Homo sapiens: one gene and its partners. The protein of the gene in region 5 purifies or fractionates together with the protein of the main gene of each other region. This does not show direct contact. Each region holds a gene or a part of one and is shown on either strand. Other genes may lie near its edges. The genes, in order: ARHGAP18, SMU1, PARP14, RTF2 and KDM4B.

Region 1 (5,710 bases), on a different chromosome or scaffold from region 5:
AATGAGAATACCTGAAGATTCAAGGTTTTTGCCCTAAGAAACTTGTAATGTTAAAGTGATCATTAATTTAGATAGGGAGGACTTGCAGAGGGGCATAAGGGGGCTGGGGTAAGTTGAGCGAGACATGAAGCTCAGTTTTTTTTTGTTTGTTTTTTGTTTTCAGATACTGAGTCTCGCTGTGTCACCCAGGTTGGAGTGCAGTGGGGTCATCTTGGCACACTGCAGCCTCCACCTCCCAGGTTCAAGCGATTCTCATGCCTCAGGCTCCCCAGTAGCTGGGATTACAGGTGCCTGCTACCATGCCTGGCTAATTTTTGTATATTTAGTGAAGATGGGGTTTCACCATGTTGGCCAGGCTGGTCTTGAACTCCTGACCTCAAGTGATCCGCCTGCCTCGCCCTCCCAGAGTGCTAGGATTATAGGTGTGAGCCCTCACGCCTGGCCTGAAGCTCAGTTTTGAGAAATATCTTTTTGAGATAAACATTAAAGTAAGAACATGGCTGGCTGTCTTGATTAGTTCAGTGTTTTTACATGAATCTTCACAGGATTTTAAAAACCTATGTAGTATACCATTTAAAAAGTTTCTTCATTCTGAATTAGTGTATTATTACCTGATCATATATATATATTTTTTTGTTGTTGAAAAAAAGGGATGGTAATGAGTTTTTATAATGCAATTGTGTAATATTTAAATTTTATTTTTTCTAACCTTAGCTTCTAAAGCGTATTTCCTCATTCTAATTTCATAGAATTTAGTGACTAAATGGATTTAAACCTGTCCATGGGGATAATTGTTTTCCAGATCAATCTCTTCTTCAATTTCATGACATAAGAGTCCTTTGTAAAGGCATTTTCTTCACTGTGGTTTAAAAACCCTATCCATAGTTTCTTCTTGAATTATTAGAGGTTGCACCCGGTGTCCAACTGGGGAAGTCTTAGGTTCATTCACAGACATGTGATATTTGCCTTTTGATTCCTCTCATTGACGAGACCTGTGATTTTTGTGGGCCTATTAAAGTTATATTATCTTCATAGAACTTTTAATTAAGTTTATGCCTTTCGAATATAAGGATTTAGAGATTATCAGAACCATCCCCACCCACACCTTCCTAGAGAAACTTGTTGAACATTTGCTTTGTTGTCCACGGCACATTTATTACTTCTGCATTGTACGATTGCACTGTGCTGCCTTGTCTCTTCTAAGTGGGGCTTGCTTTCATATTTTATGAATTTTCTAATATTTTGAGTTCTGTTATTATTTATCATACTTCTACAAGTGTTGAAGCAATAAAGACTCGTAACAATTGATGCATTTAATGATGCACATGATTGCTACTGGACTGCATGGGTGTTAGGCTTAACTCGTTTTTGATAATTGGACTCATTGCCAGAACAAATTATCTGTTTCACTCTTCTGTTTTAATTCCCCACTGGCTGTAAACATCTGTCTCACAAATTAGAAAAAGAACCCAGCACCCTAGAGGCCAAGGCTGTCCCTGGCCACAGGGATAGTTCCCTCTACTCCTTGCTCATGAATCTGTGAGGTCCATGCCCTGTGGCTGTCTTCTTTCTCCTGCCTCTTTTTCTTCTTCTTTTTTTTTTTGTTTTGGAGATGGAGTCTCGCTCTGTCACCAGGCTGCAGTGCATGGCGCAATCTCGGCTCACTGCAATTTCTGTCTCCTGGGTTGAAGCAATTCTCCTGCCTTAGCTTCCCCAGTAGCTGGGATTACAGGCGTGCGCCACCACACCCGTCTAATTTTTGTGTTTTCAGTAGAGACGGGGTTTTGCCATGTTGGCCAGGCTGGTCTCGAACTCCTGACCTCAGGTGATCCACCCGCCTAGGCCTCCCAAAGTGCTGGGATTACAGGCGTGAGCCACTGTGCCTGGCCCTCCTGCCTCTTCTTGATTCTGTTCTGTCCAAGAGCCCTGAGAAAGCTCTGTCATCATCCTAGTGGTGTCACTGTGATGAGGCCTGTAGGCTGTGGGTCTCAGTGGGAGTCACTAACAGCATGGATCACTCTGTAGGTTTGGGGTTGCTAGACCAGGTATGACAACAATCCTCTCCTGAACCCTGCTGTAGGTGCCCTCTGTCCTGTGCCCACCCTTTCATTTCATACGAATATTTTGAGAGAGATGGTTTGTTCTAAATGTTTTATTCAGTTGATATTTAATGGGCTTTTCTATTTTCTTTCGATAAAAAAGGGATAGAGAATAAGAACTCTCATTATTTGAGGAGAGTGGGGATGAGTCAGGGTATTGGGCATGGATTAGGGCAGGAGGAACGGAAGGGATGTCTAGATCTTTCTGAAGGCACATTCTTTTGACTTCCATGTTTGTTGCTGTGAGCTGGCCAAGTTTATCCTTTTTTTTGCAAGAAATAAACAGAAACCATGGAGACCCGTGTGACCAGTTACTACCTGTAGTTTTTTTCCATACTTAAGTCCACTAAGTATCTGAATTTCTGTGTTGAAAGAGAGTATGAAACCTCATCTCCTTTTCATATGCATTTGGTAGTTGCCTTTTGGCTGCAAAGAACACTGAGGTTTCCTTATGGGAAATGAGGTTTGTTACAGGGATCTGGGTCATAGGGAAAGGAGGCATCTCTTCTTCCCTCAGCAGCTGGTCATATGGGGACACTCATGGCATTTCTGTTCTCTTGGAGACTCTCAATTCTTTTCTACCCACTGGCTTTCTAATCTCATCATTTCAGCTTGAGCTTTTGGCTCCTGATGGATGCCCAGCCTGGTTACCTCCTGAGTCATCTTACATTTCATAGCTAACTGACCCATCTCTTTATTTCCTAATTTCAGTTTTTTGTTTTTTGTTTTTTTTTATTTGAGATGGAATCTCGCTCTGTCACCCAGGCTGGAGTGCAGTGGCATGATCTCAGCCCACTGCAACCTCCACCTCCCAGGTTCAAGTGATTCTCCTGCCTCAGCCTCCTGAGTAGCTGAGATTACAGGCACCTGCCACTACGCCTGGCTAATTTTTGTATTTTTAGTAGAGATGGGGTTTCACCATGTTAGTCAGGCTGTTCTCGAACTCCTGACCTCACGATCTGCCCACCTCAGCCTCCCAAAGTGTGGGGATTATAGGCGTGAGCCACCGCGCCCGGCCTTAATTTCACATTTTTGAAAGGACATCAGATTTTTCCAGTTAATCTTTTTGAACAGGCCATAGTACAACCCCAGGCAGCTTATGATCTGGCTTGTTCTGGATCTTTTTAGAAAAGCAGGGTCTGTGGGTAGTGAGATTCCTGGACAAAGGATGTGGCATCTTTGCTAAGATATTTAGGACATGACACATTTATCTGTTTCCTCATTTATGAAATCATATCGTGTAATGATGCCCTTCCTGCTTCGCAAAGTTAATCATGAAGATCAAATGTGTAACGTTTGAGAATGTTAAAAAATTATGCAGATGAACATTATTACTAAATCCTTTTCTGTACAGTATCTTAAAATTTCCCCAGACATTTCACTTCATTTCACTTAACCAGAGTTGTCATAGTAAACTTTTGAGTTTAATTTGAATTTTACTTTTTTATTATATACTCAGATGTAAGTTCATTGAGGGTGAGAACTTTGCCTGTCTTTTTTTTTTTTTTAAGGGAGGGGTGTTCCTTTATACCTAAGCCTTGGCAAAGTGCTTAGTTCACTTTAGGTAGTTACTAAAAGATTGAATGAATGAATGAGTGTAAGTGGGAGGAGGCGTAGTGATTGCATACACAGATTTTGGAGCTAGATTGCCTGGGTTGAAGTCCTGCTTCTTTCATGTAGCAGCTTGTGACTCTGGGCTATTTAATGTTTCAGGGCCTCAATTTTTTTGTTTCCTTCTGCACACTGGGAATAATAATACCTAACTCAAGACTTATTTTAAGGATTGACTGAGTCAACATATGTAACATACTTACATGAGTGCTTGACATAAAGTACGTGTTTTCGATGATGATAAAGGGCAGTCAGACTGTTACCTGTTGGTGAATTAATTTGGAAATAGTATAGGAAAGCATTGTTGTGATTAATTTGTAAGTCATTTGGGAAATGAATGTTTGCTTCTAATGCATATGCAGTATAATGCCTTTATTTTAAAACTAATAGTGGGATAAGTTATATAAATAGCTCACATTATTTCAATACTACATTTAATATCCAAAAAGTACCCTAAAAAAGTGTTTAAAGGTATTGAACTCTTGTTAGGCCCAGGTGACTGTTTTGAATACCTTTAATGCTTCAGTTTGGGTAGCTATAAAGTTGCAGAGTGTTTGTTACTCTTAATAAGATGGAAAATCATCTAGTGTAGAGCAAGGAAAAGTTATTTGCACCTGTTCCTCAAAGAGCAAATTGACTTTAGGTTATCTCAATACTTGCAGGTAAAAGTACCAATGTATCATTATAGCTAAGTATTTGAGAAAAGAATAATTGTTATACATTTGTGCCCTTAAAATTTATTTATATAAAACAGCTGTTCTTGATTAGGCTGTTCTCATAACCAAGAAGTGATGTTTCATGGGGCAGAGTTCAGCTGAATGTATATCTGTGGCAGAGATCTGGGGGATGTGTTCCCTTCACCCAGTTCTTCTTAAGCTCTGTGCCCCATCTCCTTCCCATTTAGTACAAAAATTTGAAAACTGTACTGTTAGTCTTTCTCCTCATCTATAGAATACATAATAAACTTGCTTACATGCTCCAGGCTGTAGGCTAGGAAGCTATGTCCTCCTAGTCAGTTCTCCAGTTCCTCCCTACACTTGCATTTCAAGTTCTTATCAACACAGTAGTTCCTGCTTACAAAAGGCTCATAAAAGCAGGCTGCTTTGCTTCCACCTCTAAGAGACTGGGGACTTTTTTGGTGGGTGTGGACGTAACTAGCGAAAGGATGAAGTAGAGGGGAGGATAGAGCTGTATGCAATTAGAAATGCAGAAGCCATTTTTCCTAGGGGAGAAATAGCAAAAATGATATTTAAATTCCATGGAGATATTCATTCTATAATTCTACCATATTATGGATTAATTTCTTTTTACTAGCCAGAAAACTTAAAACAGCATTTATTTGTAGCACCATTGCTGTAGGAAAATGGATTCCAAGTTCCCAACTACAGGTTTGGAAATAAACTTTTCCAACCCAAATAAAATCTTCAACTAAGTTGGGGGTTTCTGTTGTTTCTTTGTTGCCTCTCCAGACTTTTGTGATCTGAGATGTAAAAGTTCTGATTTTTTTCTGCTTCTAGTTTTATCTTACTTTAGTACAATGTCCTTCCCCAGGCACCTGGGAGCTTTGTATACTCCAATAAATATGCCTTTGTCTCCTAAACATGTGCCTGTCTTCTATTAGGGATTATGTACTTGTCTACATTTGTCATTGATTTGGGAGTATTTAGGAAGGTGGAAAATGACATACATTCTTGTGACTTTAGATGAATCAGATTATAGCTGTATAATGTAATTAATTTAGTAAAGTAAGAAGTGCTTCGGCTGGGTGTGGTGGCTCATGCCTGTGAATCCCAGCACTTTGGGAGGCCGAGGTTGGTGGATTGCAAGGTCAGGAGTTCGAGACCAGCCTGGCCAATATGGTGAAACCCTATCTCTACTAAAAATACAAAAATTAGCCAGGCCTTAGGCCGGGCGTGTGGCTCATGCCTGTAATCCCAGCACTTTGGGATGCCAAGGTGGGTGGATCACCTGAGGTCAGTGATTCAAGACCAGCCTGGCCA
Region 2 (5,710 bases), on a different chromosome or scaffold from region 5:
CCAGGATGGTCTCGATCTCCTGACCTTGTGATCTGCCCGCCTCGGCCTTCCAAAGTGGTGAGATTACAGGCGTGAGCCACCGCGGCCGGCCTATAGTTGTTTTTAAGAAGAGGGGCCAGGTGCGGTGGCTCACACCTGTCATCTCAACACTTTGGGAAGCTGAGGTGGATGGATCACTTGAGCCCAGAAGTTTGAGACCAGCATGGTCAACATGGCAAAACCACGTCTCTACAAAAAATACAACAATTAGCCAGTGTGGTGGTGCATGCCTGTGGTCTCAGCTACTCGGGAGGCTGAGGTGAGAGGATCACCTGATCCCAGGAGGCCCAGGCTGCAGTCAGCCACAATCACGCCACTATTCTGTCCAGCCTGAGCGATGCAAGTGACCATTTCTCAAAAAAAAAAAAAAAAAAGAGGATGTTTGCTTTCTCCTCAGGAATACATGCTCTAGAGCCACACTGCCAGTTTGAGTCCTGATTTTTCCACTTATTATCTCTATTATCTGATCAAATCCTCATCTGTAAATTGGGGATAAAAGTAAACTTACCTCATAGGTTTTATTTTATTTATTTTTTTGAGACAAGGTCTTGCTCTCTTTCCCAGGCTAGAGTGCAGTGGCATGATCACGGCTCACTGCAGCCTCAACCTTATGGATACAAGCAATCCTCCCACCCCAGCTTCCCAGGTAGCTGGGACCACAAGCACACACTATCATGCCTAGCTAATTTTTTTTTTTGTGTGTGTGTGTGTGTAGAGAAGGGGTCTTCTTATGTTGCCCATGCTGGTCTTGAACTCATGGGCTCAAGGGATCCTCCCACATCAACATCCCAAGTAGCTGGGACTACAGGCACATGCCACCATGTTTGGCTAATTTAAAAAAAAATTTGTAGAGATGGGGTCTCACAGCTGCCTGATCTGGTCTCAAACCTCCTGGTTTCCAGCCAATCCTCCTGCCTCAGCCTCCCAAATTACTGAGATTACAGTCATGAGCCAGCATGCCCAACCTCATTTAGATTATTTTGTATAAATAACTAGTCTAGTCATTTAAAGTATTTCAGTGAAGTGTGCTACAATATAATTACAAGAATGAATAGGAAACTAGGCTCTGGATTAGGAAATAAGATAGTCACCTTGACACCAACTCCCTTTCTAGCTGACTGAGACATTAGGCAAATGATTTCCTTTCCTTGAACCCCAGTTCTGTCTCTATGGTTAGGGGGGGTCCCCTTATAATTTAGATTCTGTGATTTTGGAAAATTTTACTCACATGATAAAGAAATAGTAGTGAAAGGAAGATGATTGAGTAGGAGCTTGATAGGCTTTATTTTTGACCTCTGGTGAGTGAGAATCCCTGAGCTGAACGATTTGTTTTCTTTCAGTGTGATCCGCCTTATTATGCAGTACTTGAAGGAGAACAGTTTACATCGGGCGTTAGCCACCTTGCAGGAGGAGACTACTGTGTCTCTGAATACTGTGGACAGCATTGAGAGTTTTGTGGCTGACATTAACAGTGGCCATTGGGATACTGTGTTGCAGGCTATACAGTCTCTGAAATTGCCAGACAAAACCCTCATTGACCTCTATGAACAGGTAAGAGTGGTGGTGATGCTGATCCCCATGGGTTGGTTCGTTGTGGGCCAGCTCCCCAACTAAAAAGCGTCAGTGAGCATTCCTTCAAGCACGGTAGGGCTGCATCAGCCCATACAACAATGGCAAGGCTTGACATTGTATTTTTTCTCCCTTCTTGGAAAATCCAGGATTTCCCAAATTAAAATTCTTTCCTTTTTTTGAGACTGGATCTTGTTCTGTTACCCACTCTGGAGTGCAGTGGCAAGATCACAGCTTGCTGCATCCTCCATTTCCAGGATCAATCCTTCCTCCTGCCTCAGCCTCCTGAGTAGCTAGGAACACAGGCACGCACCACCACGCCTGCCTAATTTTTGCATTTTTCTGTAGAGACAGGATCTCACCATAATACCCAGGGTGGTCTCAAACTCCTGGGCTCAAGCAGTTCGCCAGCCTTGACTTTCCAAAGGGCTGGGATTACAGGCACGAGAGAGCCTCAACTTTCTAATCACATAGTTAGTCTTTCTGATAACTAGCTCCTACCTATCCTGAGCCATTTCCTTTGCACAAACCCAGGTGTGATTCAAGGGGCCCAGGAGTAACAAAGATACCCCTATCACTGGTCAAATTCCAAGAAGCTCCAAGCCAAGAACCTAGGACAAAGATCAGACAAATTTGTGATTATAAAACAGCAGAGTAGACTTTCTGGAAATAAGATTGTAATTTGAAGTAAAAGTAGTGAAATTGGTTTTTGGTTTTTGTTTACGGGTTTTTTTTTTTGTTTTTTTTTTGAGACAGAGTCTCACTGTGTTACCCAGGCTGGAGTGCAGTGGTGCGATCTCTGCTCACTGCAACCTCCATCTCCGGGGTTCAAGCGATTCTCCTGCCTCAGCCTCCCGAGTAGCTGGGATTACAGGCGTGCATCACCACGCCCAGCTAAGTTTTGTGTTTAGTAGAGACGGGGTTTCACCACATTGGCCAGGCTGGTCTCCAACTCCTGACCTCAAGTGATCCACCTGCCTCAGCCTCCCAAATGCTGGGATTACAGGTGTGAGCTGCCGTGTCTGGGCAGTTTGTTTCTTTACAATCCGTATGAGTTCAATAATTCCCAAAGAAAATTTTGGTAACTGGAGAAAGGTTTCTCTGGAGCCCATGGGTATATTCCCATCTTTAGCTTTCTTTGGCATCTACATTCTGAGCAAGAAGCCTGAGAGGAGGGGAGATTGGTAGATAAAAATGAAGGATAGAGTTTGAAGGATTGAAATTATTATTTATTTATTTATTGAGACAGATCTCGCTCTGTCGCCCAGGCCAGAGTACAGTAGCATGAGCTTGGCTCACTGCACTCTCCGCCTCTCGGGTTCAAGCAATTCTCCTGCCTCAGCCTCCCAAGTAGCTGGAATTACAGGCATATACCACCACACCCAGCTAATTTTTTTTGTATTTTTAGTAGAGAGTCTGTTTCACCACGTTGGCCAGGCTGGTTTCGAACTGCTGACCTCAAGTGATCCGCCCATCTTGGCCTCCCACAGTGTTAGGATTATAGGCATGAGCCACCAAGCCCACCAAGTCCACCTGAAATTGCTAGTGAAAATGGAAAGGGGCACTTCCTGGTATTGGAAATCCTTTGACAGGCCATATCTGTGTTAGATATTTTACCGAAAAATATTAATAAGACGGTGTGTTGAAACATCTGGGGTTTTTTTTGTTTTTTTTTAATTGTCCAGGTTGTTCTGGAATTGATAGAGCTCCGTGAATTGGGTGCTGCCAGGTCACTTTTGAGACAGACTGATCCCATGATCATGTTAAAACAAACACAGCCAGAGCGATATATTCATCTGGAGAACCTTTTGGCCAGGTCTTACTTTGATCCTCGTGAGGTATGACTGTGGTAATGAAAAGGAACTTTTTGTTAACTTTGGAAATGAAATAACATGATCTTTTTTTTTTTTTTTTACCATTTTATTGTATACTCTTTGTGATTTTGATTTAATTTTTGAGAATGATGCTTCTCTGTTTATATATGTTGGCTGAAATTTGCGTATGTTAAAGAGAATAATTTTGTTCAGTTTTCTGATTATTTGAGTCTTCTATACACCTCAGTTTAGAGGATTGCGTGTTGGTTAGTAAAAAAAGCAGAACATTTTATTCTGATGTCATTTCCACATTAGCCCTCCCCGAAGTGCTGCCTGACTGCTGGTATGTTCACTGATCATTTGTGTGTCTTGCCCCTAACAATTGTAGTTTCCTTCTAGCCTTTTTAGTCCCTAGAAGCTTTTGTTTCTTCGCGGATTATGCTTACCAGTAGAGCATGATGATAGTCTTTTATTCTTCCAAAACGTTATTATCTGTATAGTTTCATTCTTCCTAAACCTTATTATCTGTATGGTTTCATTCTTCCTGCCCACCCCCCCAGCCTTTTACTAGAGGTTTGTCAAAATAGGAGGAAAAAGGATTAAAAAAAATTTTTTATGGGTACATAGTAGGTGTATATATTTATGGGGTACATGAGATATTTTGATATAGGCATGCAGTGCATAATGAGGGTAAATGGAGTATCCATCACCTCAAGCATGTATCCTTTGTGTTACAAACAATTCAATTCTTTCAGTTATTTTAAAATGTATAATTATTATTGGCTATAGTCACCCTGTTGTGCTATCAAATACTATTTCTTATTTATTCTTTATATTTTTTGTATCTATTAACCATCCCCACTTTCCTTCTTACCCCCGCCACCTCCACCCTTCCCAGCCTCTGACAACCATCCTTCTACTCTCTATCTCCATGTTTTAATTTTTAGTTCCTGCAAATAAATGAGAACATGCAAAGTCTGTCTTTCTGTGCCTGGCTTATTTCGCTTACCATAATGAGCTCTAGTTACATGCATGTTGTTGCAAATGACAGGATTTCATTCTTTTATATGTCCAGCTAGTACACCATTGTGTACATGTACCTCATTTTCTTTATTTATCTGTTAATGGTCACTTATCGTTGCTTCCAAATCTTGCCTATTGTGAACACTGCTGTAATAAACATGGGAGTGCAGATATCTCTTTGATATACTGATTTCCTTTTGGGTGTGTACCTAGCAGTGGGATTGCTGGATCATATGGTACCTCCATGTTTAATTTTTTGAGGAATCTCCAAACTATTCTCCATAGTGGTTGTACTAATTTACATTCCCACTAATAGTGTACGAGGGTTCCTTTTTCTCCACTTACTCACCAGCATTTGTTATTTCCTGTCTTTTTGTATAAAAGCCATTTTAACTGGAGTGAGATGATATCTCATTGTAGTTTGATTTGCATTTCTCTAATGATCAGTTGTGTTGAGCACCTTTAAATAAACCTGTTTGCCTTGTGTGTGTCTTTTTTTGAGAAATGTCTATTCAGATCTTTCACCCATTTTTAACATTGGATTATCAGATTTTTTTCCCGTAGAGTTGTTTGAGCTCCTTATATATTCTGGGTTTTGTTGTTGTTGTTGTTGTTGTTTTTGAGACAGAGCTCTGTTACCCAGGCTGGAGTGCAGTGGCGTGATCTCGGCTCACTGCAGCCTCCGCTTCCTGGGTCCAAGTAATTCTCGTGCCTCAGCCACCAAGTAGCTGGGATTACTGGTGTGTGCCACCACACTCAGCTAATTTTTGAGTTTTCAGTAGAGATGGGGTTTCGCCATGTTGGCCAGGTTGGTCTCGAAGTCCTGGCCTCAAGCAGTCCACCCGCCTCGGCCTCCCAAAGTGCTAGGATGACAGGCATGAGCCACCACACTTGGCCCTGTATTCTGGTTATTTATTTATTTGTTTATTTATTTTTCTGAGACAGAGTCTTGCTGTTGTCTCCCCGGCTGGAGTGCAATGGCACGATCTTAGCTCACTGCAACCTCCACCTCCCAGGTTCCAGGAATTCTCCTGCCTCAGCCTCCCGAGTAGCTGAGATTACAGGCACCCACCACTATGGCCTGGCTAGTTTTTCTATTTTTAGTAGCGACAGAGTTTCACCATGTTGGCCAGGCTGGTCACAAACTCCTGACCTCGGGTGATCTGCCAGCCTCAGCCCCCGAAAATGTTGGGATTACAGGCGTGAGCCACCCTGCCCAGCCATATTCTGGTTATTAATCCCTTGTCAGATGGGTAGTTTGCAAG
Region 3 (5,710 bases), on a different chromosome or scaffold from region 5:
ATTTATGTTTTTGTATGCTTTGCTGAAGATCAATTGGTTTTAAGTATTTGACTTTATTTCTTGACCCTCTATTCTGTTTCATTGGTCTATGTGCCTATTTTTATACCAGTACCTTGCTGTTTTGGTAACTATAGCCTTGTAGTATAATTTGAAGTTGGGTAATGTGATGTCTCCAGATTTGTTCTTTTTGCTTAGTCTTGCTTGGCTATATGGGCTCTTTTTTGGTTCCATGTGAATTTTAGGATTTTTTTTCTAGTTCTGTGAAGAATGATGCTGGTATTTGGATGAGAATTGCATTGAATCTGTAGATTGCTTTGGGCAGAATGGTCATTTTCACAATATTGATAATTCCCATCCATGAGCATGGAATGTGTTTCCATTTGTTTGTGTCATTTCTTTGACCAGTGTTTTGTAGTTTTCCTTGTAGAGATCTTTCACCTCCTTGGTTAAGTATATTCCTAGGTATTTTATTTATTTATTTATTTATTTATTTATTTATTTATTTATTTATTTATTTTTGCAGCTATTGTATAAGGGATTGAGCTTTGATTTGATTCTCAGCTTGGTGGTTGTTGGTGTATAGCAGGGCTACTAATTTGTGTACATTGATTTTTTAACCTGAGACTTTACTGAAATTGTTTATCAGAACTAGGAGCTTTTTGGATGAGTCGTTAGGATTTTCTAGTATACAATCATATTATCTGCAAACAGCAACAGTTTGACTTCCTCTTTTCCAGTTTGGATGGCCTTTATTTCTTTGTCTTGCCTGATTGCTCTGGCAAGGACTTCCAGTACTATGTTGAATAGAAGTGGTAAAAGTGGGCATCCTTGTCTTGTTCCAGTTCCCAGGGGTATGCTGTCAACTTTCCCCCATTCAATATGATGTTGGCTGTGGATTTGTCACATATGGCTTTTACTACTTCAAGATATGTCCCCTCTATGCCTATTTTGTTGAGGGTTTTTATAATAAAGTGGTGCTGGATTTTATCAGATGCTTTTTCTGCATCTATTGAGATGATTATATGATTTTTGTTTTTAATTCAGTTTATGTGATGTATCATATTTATTGACTTTTATATGTTAAACCATCCCTGCATCCCTGGGATAAAGTACGCTTGTTCATAATGTATTATCTTTTTGAAGTGCTGTTGGATTTTGTTAGCTCATATTTTGTCAAAGATTTTTGCATCTGTGTTCATCAGGGATATTGGTCTGTAGTTTTTTTTTGTTGTATCCTTTCTTGGATTTATTATTAGTTTAATACTAGCTTTTAGACTGATTTAGGGAGGATTTCTTCTTTCTCTATCTTTTGGAATAGTTTCAGTAGGATTGGTACCAATTCTTTGAATGTCTGGTAGAATTCAGCTGTGAATCCACCTGGTCTGGGACTTTTTTGTTGTTGGCAATTTTTTTTAATTACTAGTTCAGTCTTGCTGCTTGTTATTGGTCTGTTCAAGGTTTCTGTTTCTTTCTGATTTAACCTAGGAGGGTTGTATGTTTCCAGGAATTTATCCATTTCCTCTAGAGTTTCTAGTTTGTGCATGTAAAGGTGTTCATAGCAGCCTTGAATGATCTTTTGTATTTCTGAGGCATTGATTGTAATGTCTCCAGTTTCATTTCTAATTGAGCTTATTTGGATCTTCTCTCTTCTTTTCTTGGTTAATCTCACTAATGGTCTATGAATTTTCTTTATCTTTTCAAAGAACCAGCTTTTTGTTTCATTTTTATCTTTTTTTGTTTGTTTGTTTGAGGTCTTTTTAAAATAGTTTCTATTTCTCTGCAGAGACATCCTATTTTTCCATTCATTCCACATCATTTCCATCCATTCAAATGTGTTTACTTTGACCTCATGGATCATAGTTATAGTAGATGCTTTAAAGTCTTCTATAATTCACATCTTTTTGGGATTCACATCTTTTTTTTTTTTTTTCTTTTTTCTATGGAGTCTTGCTCTGTTGCCCAGTCTGGAGTGCAGTGGTGCAATCTTGGCTCACTGCAACCTCCGCCTCCCGGGTTCAAGTGATTTCCTTGCTCAGCCTCCCAAATAGCTGGGATTACAGGCCTGTGCCACCACGCCCAGCTAAGTTTTGTATTTTTCTTTTAGCAGAGAGAAGGTTTTACCATGTTGGACAGGCTTGTCTTGAACTCCTGACCTCAAGTGATCCACCTGCCTCGGCCTCCCAAAGTGCTGGAATTACAGGCATGAGCCACCATGCCTGGCCAGGATTGACATCTTTTTTTTTTTGAGACAGAGTCTCACTCTGTCACTCAAGCTGGAGTGCAGTGGCACAATCTCAACTCACTGCAGCCTCAACCTCTGGGGGCTCAGGTGATCCTCCTACCTCAGCCTCCCAAGTAGCTGGGACTACAGTTGTGCACCACCATCCCAGCTAATATTTGTATTATTTGTAGAGATGGGGTTTCACCATGTTGTTCAGGCTGATCTCGAACTCCTGGACTCAAGTGATCCACCCACCTCGGCCTCCCAAAGTGCTGGGATTGCAGACATGAGCCATTGTGTCTGGCTGGATTGACAGCTTTTGATTTTCTTTATCCTTAAGGGTTGATCAAATTTTCCTGGTTCTTTATATAACAAGCAATTTTGGAATACAGACTTGACATTTTAAATATTATGTTGTGAGACTAGGGCCACCCTTGGGTCAAAGCTGGGAGAGAAAAGAGGAAAAATTTTAAAACAGAACAAAATGGAAAACTGCCCCACTTAGCAGATTGCTTCTGCAAGTTTTGGCACCTTTCTTCAATCTGTCTGCTGTTATTGTAACTTTTCAGAGCTCTTGGGTGGTGGCTTTTTGTATTTGTCCTGTTTTTAGTTGTAATCAACGGGAGAGATAGGCTATAGTACGCTAACTTCACCTTGGTCAGCACCAGAGTTCATGTTTGATATGGATTCTATGTTCTAATTCTTTTTTCTTAAACAGATCATCACTGAGGCTGAGGAGCAGGGCCAGGTTAAAGACCAGAGGTCACAGAAAGAGAGGGAGAGGGAAGACATCCAAGAGGGTCCCATGTGAGCAGGATACCCAAGTCATTCTTGCTGTGGCTGACTCGGTTATTGACTTTACTTCTTTTCTTTTCAGGTTTTTATGGGACTGTTTCTAGCCCTGATTCAGGTGTGTATGAAATGAAGATTGGCTCCATCATCTTCCAGGTGGCTTCTGGAGATATCACGAAAGAAGAGGCAGATGTGATTGTAAATTCAACATCAAACTCATTCAATCTCAAAGCAGGTACTTGTACAATTTTGATGAGTGCAATAGTTAATGGTAGATGCTATGAAGGAGGGTTTCTATAGCCAAACTGGTTTTTAGAACTTTGGCTTGTTAATTAATAACTTTTAAATTATGCTGACAGGGTTTTCCATAATTAATAATGTTTATTTTATGAAGTTTTCTTCTTTGTCATCAGCAATACCCAATTAGAGGATTCCTCAGATGATGGAGAATGCATTCAGATAATCCTTCTGATCCAAATATACCATAGTGGTTTTTTACTCATGTTTGTTATCATCTTGATTTTCTCATGTAGGGGTCTCCAAAGCAATTTTAGAATGTGCTGGACAAAATGTAGAAAGGGAATGTTCTCAGCAAGGTAAGGCATATTCTATTTTTTGGTCCTAAGTTGTAATTGTATGGGAGGCTGTGGAGAGGCTGAGAAAAGTCTTAGGGTTGGGGAGACAACACTCTAATTTTAAAATGATACATTTTACTAAAGAATTCCAATCACAGACACTTAGAAGTGAAAAGTAATCTCACAGTTAAAAGTAAAGTTAAGTCATAGCATTCCATCAAAGATAGTATTTCAGGAGTTTTTTTTTTTTCACAAAATGCTTACTTGCCAAGTTATACATTTTGCTTTCTAAACAAATGACGGGTTCAACTTCTACTAATTTTGCATCTTTTTGTCTGTGTTTCCCAGCTCAGCAGCGCAAAAATGATTATATAATCACCGGAGGTGGATTTTTGAGGTGCAAGAATATCATTCATGTAATTGGTGGAAATGATGTCAAGAGTTCAGTTTCCTCTGTTTTGCAGGAGTGTGAAAAAAAAAATTACTCATCCATTTGCCTCCCAGCCATTGGGACAGGTTCGTAGCCTCTGGCTGTCAAGGCTAAATCCCAAGCCATCTACTTTCCCTTTCATTTGGAGCTGAGTGTGAATGCGGTCAGTGCTGAGTCTGACCCAGGGCAGCAACCATTAAGCTAGGAGTGGACAGCTTCCTCCCCATAAGACAACTCCCAAGGGAATGACAAAGCCTGTGGATTGTTTGAGTAAAAGAGGGACAAAATGCAGGAGACTGAAGAGAGTGTTAGAATGTTAGAGAGGCAGAAAGAAGGGAAGGGAAAATAAGGAGGAGAAGAGAAGGGAGAGAGTGGAAAGGCCATCCCTCATTCTCTTTCCTCAGTTACTTTCCCTTTTTCCATTCCCTACATATTCTCCATTATGCAGTCCTTAGCTTCCTCCTCTTTCCCCTCTCCATGGAGAATATTAGTACAACAACTTCCACCTCACTCTAGCTGATTCCCAGAGGAATATTACCAGGCTTCAGCTCAACAGTCAGCTGTGTCACTTGGCCTCAGGGCATTTCTGTGTAGAAGCTTCTCAGTCACCAGAACCTAGTGGGTCAGAAACTCAACTCTCCACTTTCCTCTTTTCAGCCTACTTGCTTCTTTGATTTTCTTCTTTTCCTAAAACTAGGTAATGATAGCGTGATTTTTCATATATAAGGATGGCGCTCTGGATTTATCATTAATTAGGTGGTTTTTTTTTTTTAATTATACTGGGGTACATGGGCAGAATGTGCAGTTTTGTTGCACAGGTGTTCTTTGAGCTCTTTAGGAATCCCTGCTTGGTCTCCTTCAGAGAGCTGGTCAGGGGAGGCATGCATTCTTAGGCTTGAAGTCAACGGAGCTGCCTTGTTCCAGTGCGAGAATAGTCAGCATCGGATCTGTCATTCTGTTGCTCGGGAATCTAAGTTTGAATCTCTTATGCTGGCATTCTAGGCTTTCCAAAAGGTTATCCTCAATAAACTTAACCATCCTTGTCAATTTCTGGGCCTTCTTCTAACCCTCTGACCCATATCTGTAATTCTGTACCATTTCTTATAATGTTCCGAGATGGAATTCTATGTCTATTTTACAACTTTTCTATTTCTAAAAGTATAATTTTTGATCCCTTTGTTTTCATTCCCCTTAGAGTATCATCTATTCCTAGCAGATTAGCCAACATTTCTCCTATCTCTCTCTACCAGTCATCTATCTATCTATCTATCTATCTATCTATCTATCTATCTATCTATCTATCTATCTATCGATCTGTCTATCTATCTCTATCATCTCTCTACTGACTTATCTTTTATGGACACCCACCAATGACTCCTCAGTCTCTGTCTCCATCTGTTTTTTTCTCTGAGCTCTAGTCTTGGGTTTCCACCTTCAGTTGATTTGGGCCAAGAAAGCAAGCAGCTTAGGGGTGCCACAGACCTTCCCAAAGGAGTCCCTGGTAGAGTCAAAAGAAGAAACAAAGAAAGAAGGTAGGTTTCGTTTTGTATAAATATGTACACATTTGAGCATTTCTGGACTCAATTCTGGACTCAACAACAAATCCTGTTGTTTCTTCCACTGACCTGGTTGCATTGCTGGTCAGCACAAATAAATCAGGGTTAGTGGGTTATCCTTGCATGTCCTCTTTAC
Region 4 (5,710 bases), on a different chromosome or scaffold from region 5:
CTAGAGAGCAGGTGAGTGTCTTGAAAGGCAAATCACCATTCATACGATCAGCTTCCTGGTCGAGAATGAGCACGTCTCACTGAGTTCTCTGCTCCGAGTATTTGTGGACTATCAATTGACGGTAATGACAATCTTATGTATTAGCATTGTTTTATTTGTATGCTTTTTTTCTTTACTGTTCTAATTTCTTGGAGTTTTTTTCCATTAAATATTCAACCACATAAAACTGAATATTACAAGTATTTTAAGTATAGAACTGTATGAATTAATTTCAATAACTGTTTTTTTTTCTCATCAGATGGGTAATGTGCTGATGTCACAACAAGGCTTGAGAGAGGCACATCTTACATGTGCACATGGAAACCCAATCATAGCATTATGAACTACTAAAGAATCGTTTATCACATTTTTGATGTAAGATGATTCATACTACCACAGGTTTTTCAGGAATAAATTCTCTTCCACAAGGTAAAAGACCACTAAAATCAGAATAATTTCTAGAGCACTATCATTAGCTACATTTCAGAATTATGAATTTGCCTGAAATGAACATATCCTATAATCAACCCCAAGCATTTGAACAAAAAGCCTAATAATACGAAAGAAAGAAAGAAAAAGAAGGCAAAACCTAGAGCCTTAGACTGGGAGTTAGGGGATCTGGTTCTGGTTTAAGTACTTCGCTAGCCATGGGGCCTCAAGTGAGTCATTTACAGTGAGATGAAGGGTTTGACTAGCCTGATGGTTCTCAAATTCTTCATTACCTTTCCAAGTTTTTTTCCCCACTGACCATATTTAAAAAGTTGTGTCCTCTCAAGAAATTTCCCTTATTAAAAAAACTTGTTTTTTCAACTTTTATGAAAGAACTTTAACTGCCAATCAGAACCTCTAATCACCAGATGGTAGCCACGTGATTTAACAGTGATCCATAAAATTATCTAATTCACAAAAGTATCTTCCAAATCCAAAATCCAAGTAGGTGAATCTTAATTACAAAAATAATGCCTCCTAACATTAATAGAGAACATCAAAATTTTCAAAGCACAACACACAGGTGAAATTACAACAGATTTATAATGTAGGAAGTATGCATGGTGGAACTCGTGGCTTGAGATTTAAGTGACCTCTCAAGATCATACCTGTATTAGATGGCCATGTGGGAATGGAATCCCAAATTTCTGAGTTCAGTCTTTAAGGCGTATAAATTCTATAAAATAAACCTCAGCCACTGTTCAGACCCTCACAGCACTTCAGAATCACTCGTGTTACCTTAATGCTTTTAATGTGAGATGCTGCCTTCCCAAGAGCCTTTTCTGCAGATTTGTCCAAGAGAAATTCAATGACGGCATCTTTGTTATAAAGTCTGCAATAGTAAGTATTAGAATATTATGTCAACAAGCGACTTTCAAATAACCAAAGAAGGAAGAATAAACTGAACACAATCCAAAAGTCGTTTACATTTGATAAGAGAAATACCCTGAATTATTAAAAAGTAAATTTAACCCTGTTTCAACTATTTCCAGAGCATACAAAGAAGGAAATTATTTATTTATTTATTTGAGAGAGAGTTTCACTCTTGTCACCCCGGCTGGAGTGCAATGGTGCAATCTCAGCTCACTGCAACCTCCGCCTCCCGGATTCAAGCAATTCTCCTGCCTCAGCCTCCCGAGCAGCTGGGATTACAGGCGCCTGCCACCATGCCTGGCTAATTTTCATATTTTTAGTAGAGACAGGGTTTCACCATATTGGCCAGGCTGGTCTCAAACTCCTGACCTCAGGTGATCCACCCACCTCAGCCTCCCAAAGTGCTGGGATCACAGGCATGAGCCAATGGGTCCAGCCAGAAATTAGTTTAAATCAAAGGTGGCAAACTGGCAGTCAGAAGGCTGAATGTAACCTGAACAAGGCTTTTTTTAATTGGGAAATTTAACGTATAAGTACGTATTTCTTCTTTTTTTAAAAAAATTAAAACCAGAAGGTGTGGAATCACTAGGCCAACACCATTGAGCTGTAAAAACTGGCTGGAACTGAGTGGCAGCTCCCGCTTTGGACAGCACATGGACCCTCCAGTATTCTCCATTCCCTGCCATTCTCTCCTGTTCCTCACATGGCTCCTTCATGTGTTTATGCTTATAATTTAGCTTCTATTGGCCCCTGAGTTTGCTATTTTTTTTGCACAGGCTGGGGTGCAGTGGTGGAATTATAGCTTACTACAGCTTCAACCTCCCAGACTCACAGGATCCTCCTGCCTCAGCCTCCTGAACAGCTGGGACTACAGGATCATGCCAGCCACCAGGTGCCTGGCTAATTTAATTTTTTTGTAGAGGTGGGGTTTCACCACATTGCCCAGACTGGTCTTGAACTCCTAGACTTAAGTGACCCTTCCTCCTCAGCCTCCCAAAGTGGTGGGATTACAGGTGTGAGCCACTGCGCTCAGCCCAGCCCCTCAGTTTTCAAACCATGGATTAAATAAACCAAACTGACTAGAAGAGTACAGAACTATGTTCAGAGACAGGGAACGACAGCCTATGCCTCACAAATTTGCTTGGGATAATCCACGCTTGATGAATGGAAAACTGCATTTACACATCAAAATTCTCAAAATCACTTAACAAACTCATCTTGATTAAGTGTAAAAACCATACCTGCCAAGTTCACAGGCAACTATTGGTCGTCTTAATATTTCCTGACTTAGAGTACAATAGTTCCATTGGGCCACTAATTCAGCATCTTTGTCGACCTAATAAAAAACAAAAAATTCAATTAATTTTCAACTCTGAAAGACACATGGTTCACAATTCTACATATAAAAGTATATTCAGTAATACCGCACTGTAATGATTTTTGTTTTTTAAATCAAAGATAATGACATAGGAAGTTGGGTTTTTGGTTTGTTGTTTGTTTGTTTTTGAGACGGGGTCTCACTCTGTTGCCCAGGCTGGAGTGTAGTGGCGCAATCTTCACTCACTGCAACCTCCACCTCCTGGACTGAAGCAAACCTTCCACCTCAGCCTCTGGAGTAGCTGGGACTATGGGTGCACACCACCAGGGCTGGCTAATTTTTGTATTTTTTGTAGAGACGTGGTTTTGCCATGCTGCCCCCAAACTCCTGGACTCAAATGATCCGCCCATCTCAGCCACCCAAACTGCTGGTATTGAAAGCATGAGCAACTGTGCCTGGCTGAAGTCAGGATTTTAAAAGTCACAAGTAATTAATACTACATCAAATAAACGCCCATCTAAATATGACATGTACAAAGAAAAAGAAGATTATATAAAATTATTAAACTGTTTATGCAAGCCACATACAAATATTAACATCTGAATCTTAATAATAACTTAGGGAGGCCATACAAAAGAGAAAAAAAAAAGTGTGTTAGATTAATTTCTAACAATGGGAAAGCCTGCTAAGTTGCGGCAGAATTTAAAGACTTAAGAACTGAGAAGACAAGCATTTTTTTTTTAAAGTTCAGAACAAAGACTACATAATTCTTTATAAAATGTTCAATTTAACAGAAATAAGTGTTTTGGGGCTTATTCACTAAGGGATACATCAAACTTTATCCCCAGTATGAAAATCCAGACATAAGACCCTCCCTGGCCCTCGAATGACATTTTCACATACATCATATTCCATGTCCCACTCCTTCCCGTTCTTGTTTTTTCCTTCACTGTGTAGACTGCACCACTCTTTCCCATTCTTCAAATGCCAAATCTGAATAATTTAACAGGACAGCACATTTGGAAGAAAATAGGAAGAGAAAAGAAAAAAAGAAGACAAAAACAATCCTGCTGAATTTATTTTATTAATTTATTTTTTGAGACAGGGTCTTGCTCTGTTGCCCAGACTGGGCTGCAGTGGCACAATCACAGCTCACTGCAGCCTCAATTCTCCTGGGCTCAAGCAATCCTCCCCCTTAGCCTCCCAAGTAGCTAGGACTACAAGCAAGCGCCAATTCCCAGCTAATTTTATTTTATTTTTGTTAAGAGGTCTCCCTGTGTTGCCCAGGCTGTTCTCCAACTGCTGAGCTCAAGTGATTCTCCTGCCTCGATCTCCCAAAGGGCTGAGTTTACAGGCGTAAGCCAACACACCTGGCCCTCTGAATTTAATTTTTAAAGTAAAAACTGCTTAAGTGCTTACTGTGTGCCAGGCACTGTGCTAAGCAGTTTCCATAACTTTTTAATCCTCAGAAAAACTCTATGAGTTAGTATTTTTACTTTTGAAGATGAGGAAAGTGAGGCACCAAGAGATTAGGTTATATTCAAAAAGCACCTCAGAGAGTTGGGGACAGGGAGAAAAGTGACAAATCACTCCTTATCCAGGGCTTTGAAAATTGTTTCCCCCGAAAAAGCAGTAAAAAATGTGTTTACCAGGGTCTCTCTTCTTTCCTAGGGTCTTTCTTCTTTTAAGTTTTTACATATCTGTACTGGAAAGACAAGTACAAGTGGTTTTGTTTTGTTTTGTTTTTTTTTGAGACGGAGTCTTGCTCTGTCGCCCAGGCTGGAGTGCAGTGGCGCTATCTTGGCTCACTGCAAGCTCTGCCTCCTGGGTTCACGCCATTCTCCTGCCTCAGCCTCCCGAGTAGCTGGGACTACAGGCACCTGCCACCATGCCCGGCAACTTTTTTGTATTTTTAGTGGAGACAGGGTTTCACTGTGTTAGCCAGGATGGTCTCGATCTCCTGACCTCATGATCCGCCTGCTTCAGCCTCCCAAAGTGCTGGGATTACAGGCGTGAGCCACCGCGCCTGGCCAGACAAGTGTTTTTTCTATACTTTCACTCACAACACTCAATACTTCCAGAACACTTCGGACAAAATGTATGGGATTTTCCCCACACCAACCAATTCTCTGATAGCAGCCAGGTGTCTTACAATTAAACTCAATTCTGATACCACCTATTTGGATATGGCCTCAGATCCCAAAGGTTAAGGGCTCAGTCCCATAATACTGTCCCTACCCCGACTTTAGATGCCAATCACAAGTTCAAGTTGTCACCTGCACTTCTGACTGTCTATAAATCAAAGGCTACCACGATCCCCCCGCCCAGTTTGATGATTTGCTAGTGTCTCACAGATATGGGGAAAGAGTTTAGTTACCATTGCTGATTTATTACAAATACATTTTAAAGGATACAAATAAATAGCCAGATAAAGAAGTAATCTGGAAGGGTCCCAAGTGCAGGGCTGTCCTCATGGAGTTGGGGTAACTCTCCTGGCATGTGGATGTTGTCGGCAACCCAGAAAATCTCCAAACCCTCAACTTCAGGGATCTTTATGGAGACCCCACCACGTAGGCATGATGGATTATTAACTCCATGTCCAATTCCTCTTCTCCTCCCTGAAGGATGGGGGTGAGGTGGGGCTGAAAGTTCCAGGCTTCTAATCTTGGCTTGGTGTTTCTGGTGACCAGGCCCCATCCAGGAGCCCACCAATAATTGCCTTATTAGAACAAAAGATGATCCCGTCACCCAGGAAATTACAAGGAATTTAGGTGCTCTGCGTTAGGAACCAGGGCAGATTTCACAATATTGATCCGAAATGTAAGCTCCACCAGGGCTAGACTCTGCCTTGTTCACTGCTATATCCCTGGGGCCTACAACAATGTATATATGGTAACCACTTATTAAGCATTTGTTGTGTGAATAGTTATAATAAAAATCCATCCTGCCTAGGCATTCTGGCTTTTTTGAATCGCTCTTCCTTCTTTTCTA
Region 5 (5,710 bases):
GTGGCGGGGGAGGGGGCAGGGAGGAGGGGACAGGAGGGCTGACTGCTGGTTTCACAGGGAACTGTGGCTCTTCTCACAGGGTAGGTGGGGTGTCTGTACTTAGAGAACAGAGGAGCCCTGTGGTTCTTTGCTGGGACAGTCACCCCAGGAGAGGAGACTCAGGCCTCAGGCACGCCGAGCCCCTGTGTGGCTCCGAGGGAGCCCCACCCAGGGGTCTGTAGCGGGGCCCTCACTACAGCCTGTTGTGTGTTTCAGGCACCGTCCACATTTTCCAAATTGAAGATGGAGATCAAGAAGAGCCGGCGCCATCCCCTGGGCCGGCCGCCCACCCGGTCCCCACTGTCGGTGGTGAAGCAGGAGGCCTCAAGTGACGAGGGTGAGTGGGGGGTCCCCAGGTCGGCTCTCATCAGCCCTGCTCCGCGCTCTGCTGCTGCTGGAGGGGGGGCCTGGCTCCCCTGCGGCTTCCTTCCCCCACTTCCTGGGTCTCCTCCCCTGAACCCAGGCCTTTCTGTGGCTCTGCCGTAGCGACAGGCTGTCACTGGGGCAGGTGGTCGTGCGGGGAGGCAGCTGCTGTTAGAGATGCTCGGCTCTGCTCTGCTGGCTGGGCTGCCCATGATGGGCGGTTCAGGGCTGGGGAGCTTGTACCTCCCCATGGAAGATTCCTCCCAGGGCTGAGCACAGGCCTCTCCAGGACTTGGAGAGGTTGGAACAAAAGGCTCCCGCGAAGCTTTGAGTGGGAGGGGAGGAGATGGAATCTTCGATTTAACCCTCAGCCGAGAGCTGCTGTCTTGTGTGCAGAAGTCCTGCTAAGCCAGTTTTTCAACTTCTGCTTCGGCCTTTCATTGGGGATGCATGTAGAATCTGAAAATGGTCTGGATGGCGTCTTTCATCCTGCATGCAATTGGAGGGGTGGGGAGAGGAGGGTTCTAGAAGCGCGTGGGATCACAGGGCGGGAGCTCCCAGGAGTGGAGGAATCGGCACGGGGACAGAGGAATGACCAGGGGCCCCCGCGGGCTGGCTTGGGAAGGGGTCTTGCCTTCTACCCAGGTATCCTTCCAGAAGGCATCTCTGGGGCCTCCGTGGACTCCCCCACTCCCCACACCCCACTGTGACCCTTTGGTGAGACCGGAGCATTTGCCTGTGAGACCATCACGGCCCCAGAACCCCAGGCATTCTGGGGTTGTGAGTGACAGACGCAGCCAGTGGCTCTGTTCTCATCCCCAGGGCCTCGGGGCCGCTTAGGGCCTTCCCTGGGCTCCGCTGGCGGTACTGTCTGGTTTGGGTTTTCAGAGGAGTCTTGGCCTAAGGGCTTCCTGAGTCCACCATGGGAGACCTGGGCCTCCACCTCGGGGAGCCTGCCCTGCCCTGCCCTGCCCTCCTCTAGGTGAACCAGGGGCAGTGCCACAGCTGGGCTGATCCCAGGACCCCAGGCTCCCCTTTAGGTTGGGCTGAGGATTGGGCCACAGGAGTGGGCACCCCACTTCCTGGGGACAGCACCCCTGTGTCCACAGGAGATGCAGGGAGGGGACGTGGGGAGATTGGGGTGCGGCAGCTGGCAATGGAGGCCATTAGAGTTCAATGGGAACAGGCAACAGGTGGGAGAGAGACCGCCGCGGCTTCTCAGCAGCAGACCTGCCTTCCGGGAGAGTGTCCCCGTCACGCAGCTCTTCCTGGGGCGGGCTGCCTTGGCTTCCTAGCCCTGGTCACGGCCCCTCCTGACTCCCTGTCGCACTCCTCTGGCACCTCCCTTGAGTTCAGTGAGTCTGTGCCCACCTAAGACAGGAAGGACAGTGTCTCTGAGTCTCGGCTGGTCACTGCCGACGCCCCCACTCAGACTCAGACCCCAGGACGGGTGTAGGGCAGCCGGGGCAGGGCTGGGCACTGAGTTTGGCCAGTCCTTGGCCCAGAAGGCCCTGGGTGAGTGGACGGCTCTGGATGTCCAGGGAGAACCAGGTGTTGGGGGAGGGGCTCAGAGGAACCATGTTTGGGGGCTCTGGCCTCAGGTGGCAGTCAGCCGAGACAGACGTGTCCCCCTCCTGTTGATGGGATGGGACGCTGCAGTGTCAGCTTGATGGGCATTGTGGAGAATGGGGCAGCCAGGAGGCAGGTGGAGGGGGAGCTATGGGCCAGGGACCCTGTGGGCAGCCAGGGCTGTAGACCCGGGGCCATCCCCTGGGCAGTTGGGGTGATTCCTTGGACGAGTTTTTAGGGGGCTCAAGTGTCTCTCTCCCTCTCCCCTCTGTTCTTCTAGAGGCATCCCCTTTCTCCGGGGAGGAAGATGTGAGTGACCCGGACGCCTTGAGGCCGCTGCTGTCTCTGCAGTGGAAGAACAGGGCGGCCAGCTTCCAGGCCGAGAGGAAGTTCAACGCAGCGGCTGCGCGCACGGAGCCCTACTGCGCCATCTGCACGCTCTTCTACCCCTACTGCCAGGTGGGCAGGCGGGCCTCACGGGTCCCAGAGAACCCCAGGCAGGGGCGGTGGGAGAGGGCGAGGGACCGGGCACCCCACACGCCTCCCTCTCTCACGCAGGGCAGGGTGTTGGCCAGCACCCCGAGTTGTGAGGGCTTGTTCCTGACAGCCGTAGGCAGAGCCTGGTCTCTGGGTTTTATTGGAATGAAGCTTACTAACGTGCCCATGTGCAACATGAGCCATGGTGGATGGGGCAGAGGGAGGCTGCGGAGGCTCGGGGTCACTGCCCTCAGGGAGCGCCCGTGTCTGGTGGGCGCTGAGATGGGCCGGGTGGTGTGGGAGTGCAGTGAAGGCCCAGGTACACCACCTGGGTGGCCGGGCGGGGCTCCCGCAAACCCTGGCCTGTCTAGCTGAGCTGGGCACCTGGCTAAGGTCCTGTTTCTGGTGCTCTTTCCATGCTGGCCTCGCCTGTCCTCTGCACCCAGATGGGGAGCTGGCCTCTGCCCACGGCCATCCCAGGCATCAGCACCCAGCCCAGCCGTTTTCCTCGGATCTCTTAGATCCCCCCTTCTCTCTTCCCCTGGGCATGCAGCCTCCCCAGGACAGGACCTGGCCACATGCTTTGCACTCCCAGCTCCTAGCCCCATGCCAAGCATGTCCAGGCATCAGCAGAGCTGCCCTGGGTTGGGGACGTCACCCCCCAGGCCTGTGCGCCGGCCGGGTCTGGGTGGACAGAGCCAGGGAGAGTGCTGTGCCGAGGGTGGTGAGCCTGTCTTGGGGCTCTGCTGCTGGGAGCTGGATTTAGTGCTCTGGTTCCTGAGACAAACAAGACCTGACAGCCGACACCGTCTCCAGGCACTTGCTGTCCTTTGTGAGGCCAGAGAGGCTGCTGGGAGCCACAGGGCCTGGAATGCCACTTCAGACATGCGTCTTCCTAATTCCCCTTGCCAGGCAGAGTGTGGAGACTCGTTCATCACACACCACCCCCAGCATACCCCAGCGCCAGGGGCCACCCAGCACCAGGGGCCACACAGGCCAGCCTGAGCTCTGTGTCTGGATGCAACCCTCATGGGAAGGTCTTCGGCGGGTTGGGGACAGGGTCAGACAGTGTTTGGGGATCCTGACTTTCTGGAGGAGTGAGAAGAGGGGCCGAGGTGGCTCTGGCCATCTCCCCGACCTCCCCCTCCAGAGCCAGGGGGTGTCGAAGCCTGGGGCAGGTGCCCTGAGAGAGGTCCGCGCCGCCCGCCCGCCTGCCCCACACATGGCTCTGTCCCCTGAAGGTCGCCTCTCCCCTACAGGCCCTACAGACTGAGAAGGAGGCACCCATAGCCTCCCTCGGAGAGGGCTGCCCGGCCACATTACCCTCCAAAAGCCGTCAGAAGACCCGACCGCTCATCCCTGAGATGTGCTTCACCTCTGGCGGTGAGAACACGGAGCCGCTGCCTGCCAACTCCTACATCGGCGACGACGGGACCAGCCCCCTGATCGCCTGCGGCAAGTGCTGCCTGCAGGTCCATGCCAGTGAGTGCCACTGTGGGGCCCAGAGGAGCTGCGCCCTCCTTCAGGGTGTTGGTGGGGGTGCCGGTGGGGGCTCCATCCTCCCCTGCGGAGGGCCACACCGGCCCCTCTCCCCAGGCTGCACTTTCAGGGCCAGGGCAGGGGCCTCCCCCGGTGACTTCCTGCAATTTCTGACTTTCTCATCCTTCCCGTTGTGGTCCCACCATCTAGAGCAGGGGGAAAGGCTGTGGCCATGGAAGGGCTGGATGACCGCATGCCACCCTGGGGCAGGACAGGGCCTCCACCGCCCCCAGCATCCAGAAGATGCCAGTGCAGGCCCAGGTGCTGGCCTCTGGTGCCAGCCTCTGCGGAGGAAGCCTCTGCTCCAAGGGGCACTGGGCTCATCCCACCCTGTCCCTGACACCCAGAAGCTCACCCTAGGGCCAGAGCAAGAAATGGGCCAGGCACCCCGTCTCTCCGCAGGCTGTGTTCCCTGAGAATGGCTGTCTCTGCCAAGCAGCCTTTGGGGGCAAACATCCCTGCCCTTGACCTTGGCCCAGGCAGGGTTCCTCCTCACTGGCCCTCTGGACAGTTCTGCCGAGTCTTCTCCAAGGCCTGGGAGGCGACAGGAGGAACTCAGGCAGCCGCTACGCCTGTGATTTGTGGCTGTGGTTGAAACTGATGGTCACAGTGAGATTGCAGCGTGGTCAGGGCGTCTGATTTATCTCTGCTCTCAGGGACCCCTCCCCAGTCCTGAGGCTCGACCATGGTCACAGACAAGAAAATGGATGTCTGTCTCTTTCCCACGCACGGGGGGGCGGTGGCAGGAATTGGACTTTCAGGGAAGGAGGAGGGCTCTCTGGAGACGTTTAATTTTCTGTGCCCCTGGCAGCCATAGATCTGTGTCGGTTTCCTCCTGGCGGTGGCCTGCCTGGGGGCTCGCGTTGTCTCCTGGCTGGGAGGCTCTTCACTCTGCTTTGCTGGGCCTGGGTTTGAGATGTGCCCCCGGGGCAGATGGGCTCCCTGGGGGAAGGGTTGCCGAGGGTCCCAGGCCTGCCACAGCCGGGCCGCCCCAGCCAGGCTACCCCAGCAGACGCCCCCACCCCCAGCCGTGCCCACCACCCTGCTGCTCTGGAGGCAGTGAGGTCCCCGCCCCCAGCCTCTTCAGTGGGCCATCAGCACTGGCAGAGAGCCCCTTCCACACTGGGGGCAGTGATCCCCAGCAGAGGCAGAGCCCTGGGGGGCAGGCGGCACCCCTGCCCTCGCTCTGGGGGCATGATTCGGCCTTTTGTGCCCTTTCCCCATTTCCAGACCCAGGGCCACATCCCACAGTGAGTCTCCCTTGCGGCTTTGGCCTTTCTGGACATAGCAGGAGGAGCTGCTGTTGGGGGTGCAGACACCCAACAAGGAGGGGCCCTCAAGACACCACCAGGCTGAGCGCGGCAGACCCAGCTGGAGCTCAGGGTCCCTGCTTCCCCTCCTGCGTCCTCTTTCCACACAAGTAGCTTCCAGACCTTTCTCTCGCTCCACATGCAGTGGCCTGGATTGAAGCTCAGAGGGTGGGAACAGCACGCACCCTGAATGCTGCAGCTGCGTGCGGAGGCCTCGTCACTCCACATACGGACACTGGCCCCCAAGTTACCCGGCCCCTCCCCCTGAGTTTCACTCGGCTCCCCAAGTCTCACCTGCCCCCCAGATCTCAGCCAGCCCCCGCTGTCTTCCAGGTTGCTATGGCATCCGTCCCGAGCTGGTCAATGAAGGCTGGACGTGTTCCCGGTGCGCGGCCCACGCCTGGACTGCGGTA

Evidence for each region.
Region 1: the proteins of KDM4B (region 5) and ARHGAP18 purify together in Homo sapiens (affinity purification with mass spectrometry; one large-scale study listed by BioGRID and IntAct). This does not show direct contact.
Region 2: the proteins of KDM4B (region 5) and SMU1 fractionate together in Homo sapiens (co-fractionation; one large-scale study listed by BioGRID). This does not show direct contact.
Region 3: the proteins of KDM4B (region 5) and PARP14 purify together in Homo sapiens (affinity purification with mass spectrometry; one large-scale study listed by BioGRID and IntAct). This does not show direct contact.
Region 4: the proteins of KDM4B (region 5) and RTF2 purify together in Homo sapiens (affinity purification with mass spectrometry; one large-scale study listed by BioGRID and IntAct). This does not show direct contact.

Annotation. Positions count from the first base shown.
Region 1 is NC_000006.12:129,698,897-129,704,606, reverse strand, and holds part of ARHGAP18 (rho GTPase-activating protein 18), read left to right. Parts: intron 1-5,710. UniProt on the Homo sapiens protein: Rho GTPase activating protein that suppresses F-actin polymerization by inhibiting Rho. Rho GTPase activating proteins act by converting Rho-type GTPases to an inactive GDP-bound state.
Region 2 is NC_000009.12:33,069,476-33,075,185, reverse strand, and holds part of SMU1 (WD40 repeat-containing protein SMU1), read left to right. Parts: intron 1-1,379; coding exon 1,380-1,590; intron 1,591-3,293; coding exon 3,294-3,446; intron 3,447-5,710. UniProt on the Homo sapiens protein: Involved in pre-mRNA splicing as a component of the spliceosome. Regulates alternative splicing of the HSPG2 pre-mRNA. Required for normal accumulation of IK.
Region 3 is NC_000003.12:122,710,326-122,716,035, forward strand, and holds part of PARP14 (protein mono-ADP-ribosyltransferase PARP14), read left to right. Parts: intron 1-2,939; coding exon of another isoform or gene 2,940-2,950; exon of another isoform or gene 2,951-3,098; coding exon 3,099-3,248; intron 3,249-3,546; coding exon 3,547-3,609; intron 3,610-3,936; coding exon 3,937-4,104; intron 4,105-5,710. UniProt on the Homo sapiens protein: ADP-ribosyltransferase that mediates mono-ADP-ribosylation of glutamate residues on target proteins. In contrast to PARP1 and PARP2, it is not able to mediate poly-ADP-ribosylation.
Region 4 is NC_000020.11:56,470,328-56,476,037, reverse strand, and holds part of RTF2 (replication termination factor 2), read right to left. Parts: intron 5,413-5,710; exon of another isoform or gene 5,097-5,412; intron 4,425-5,096; exon of another isoform or gene 4,369-4,424; intron 3,713-4,368; coding exon of another isoform or gene 3,623-3,712; intron 2,738-3,622; coding exon 2,643-2,737; intron 1,361-2,642; coding exon 1,267-1,360; intron 396-1,266; exon of another isoform or gene 293-395; intron 1-292. UniProt on the Homo sapiens protein: Replication termination factor which is a component of the elongating replisome. Required for ATR pathway signaling upon DNA damage and has a positive activity during DNA replication.
Region 5 is NC_000019.10:5,131,632-5,137,341, forward strand, and holds part of KDM4B (lysine-specific demethylase 4B), read left to right. Parts: intron 1-255; coding exon 256-376; intron 377-2,251; coding exon 2,252-2,430; intron 2,431-3,707; coding exon 3,708-3,930; intron 3,931-5,630; coding exon 5,631-5,707; intron 5,708-5,710. UniProt on the Homo sapiens protein: Histone demethylase that specifically demethylates 'Lys-9' of histone H3, thereby playing a role in histone code. Does not demethylate histone H3 'Lys-4', H3 'Lys-27', H3 'Lys-36' nor H4 'Lys-20'.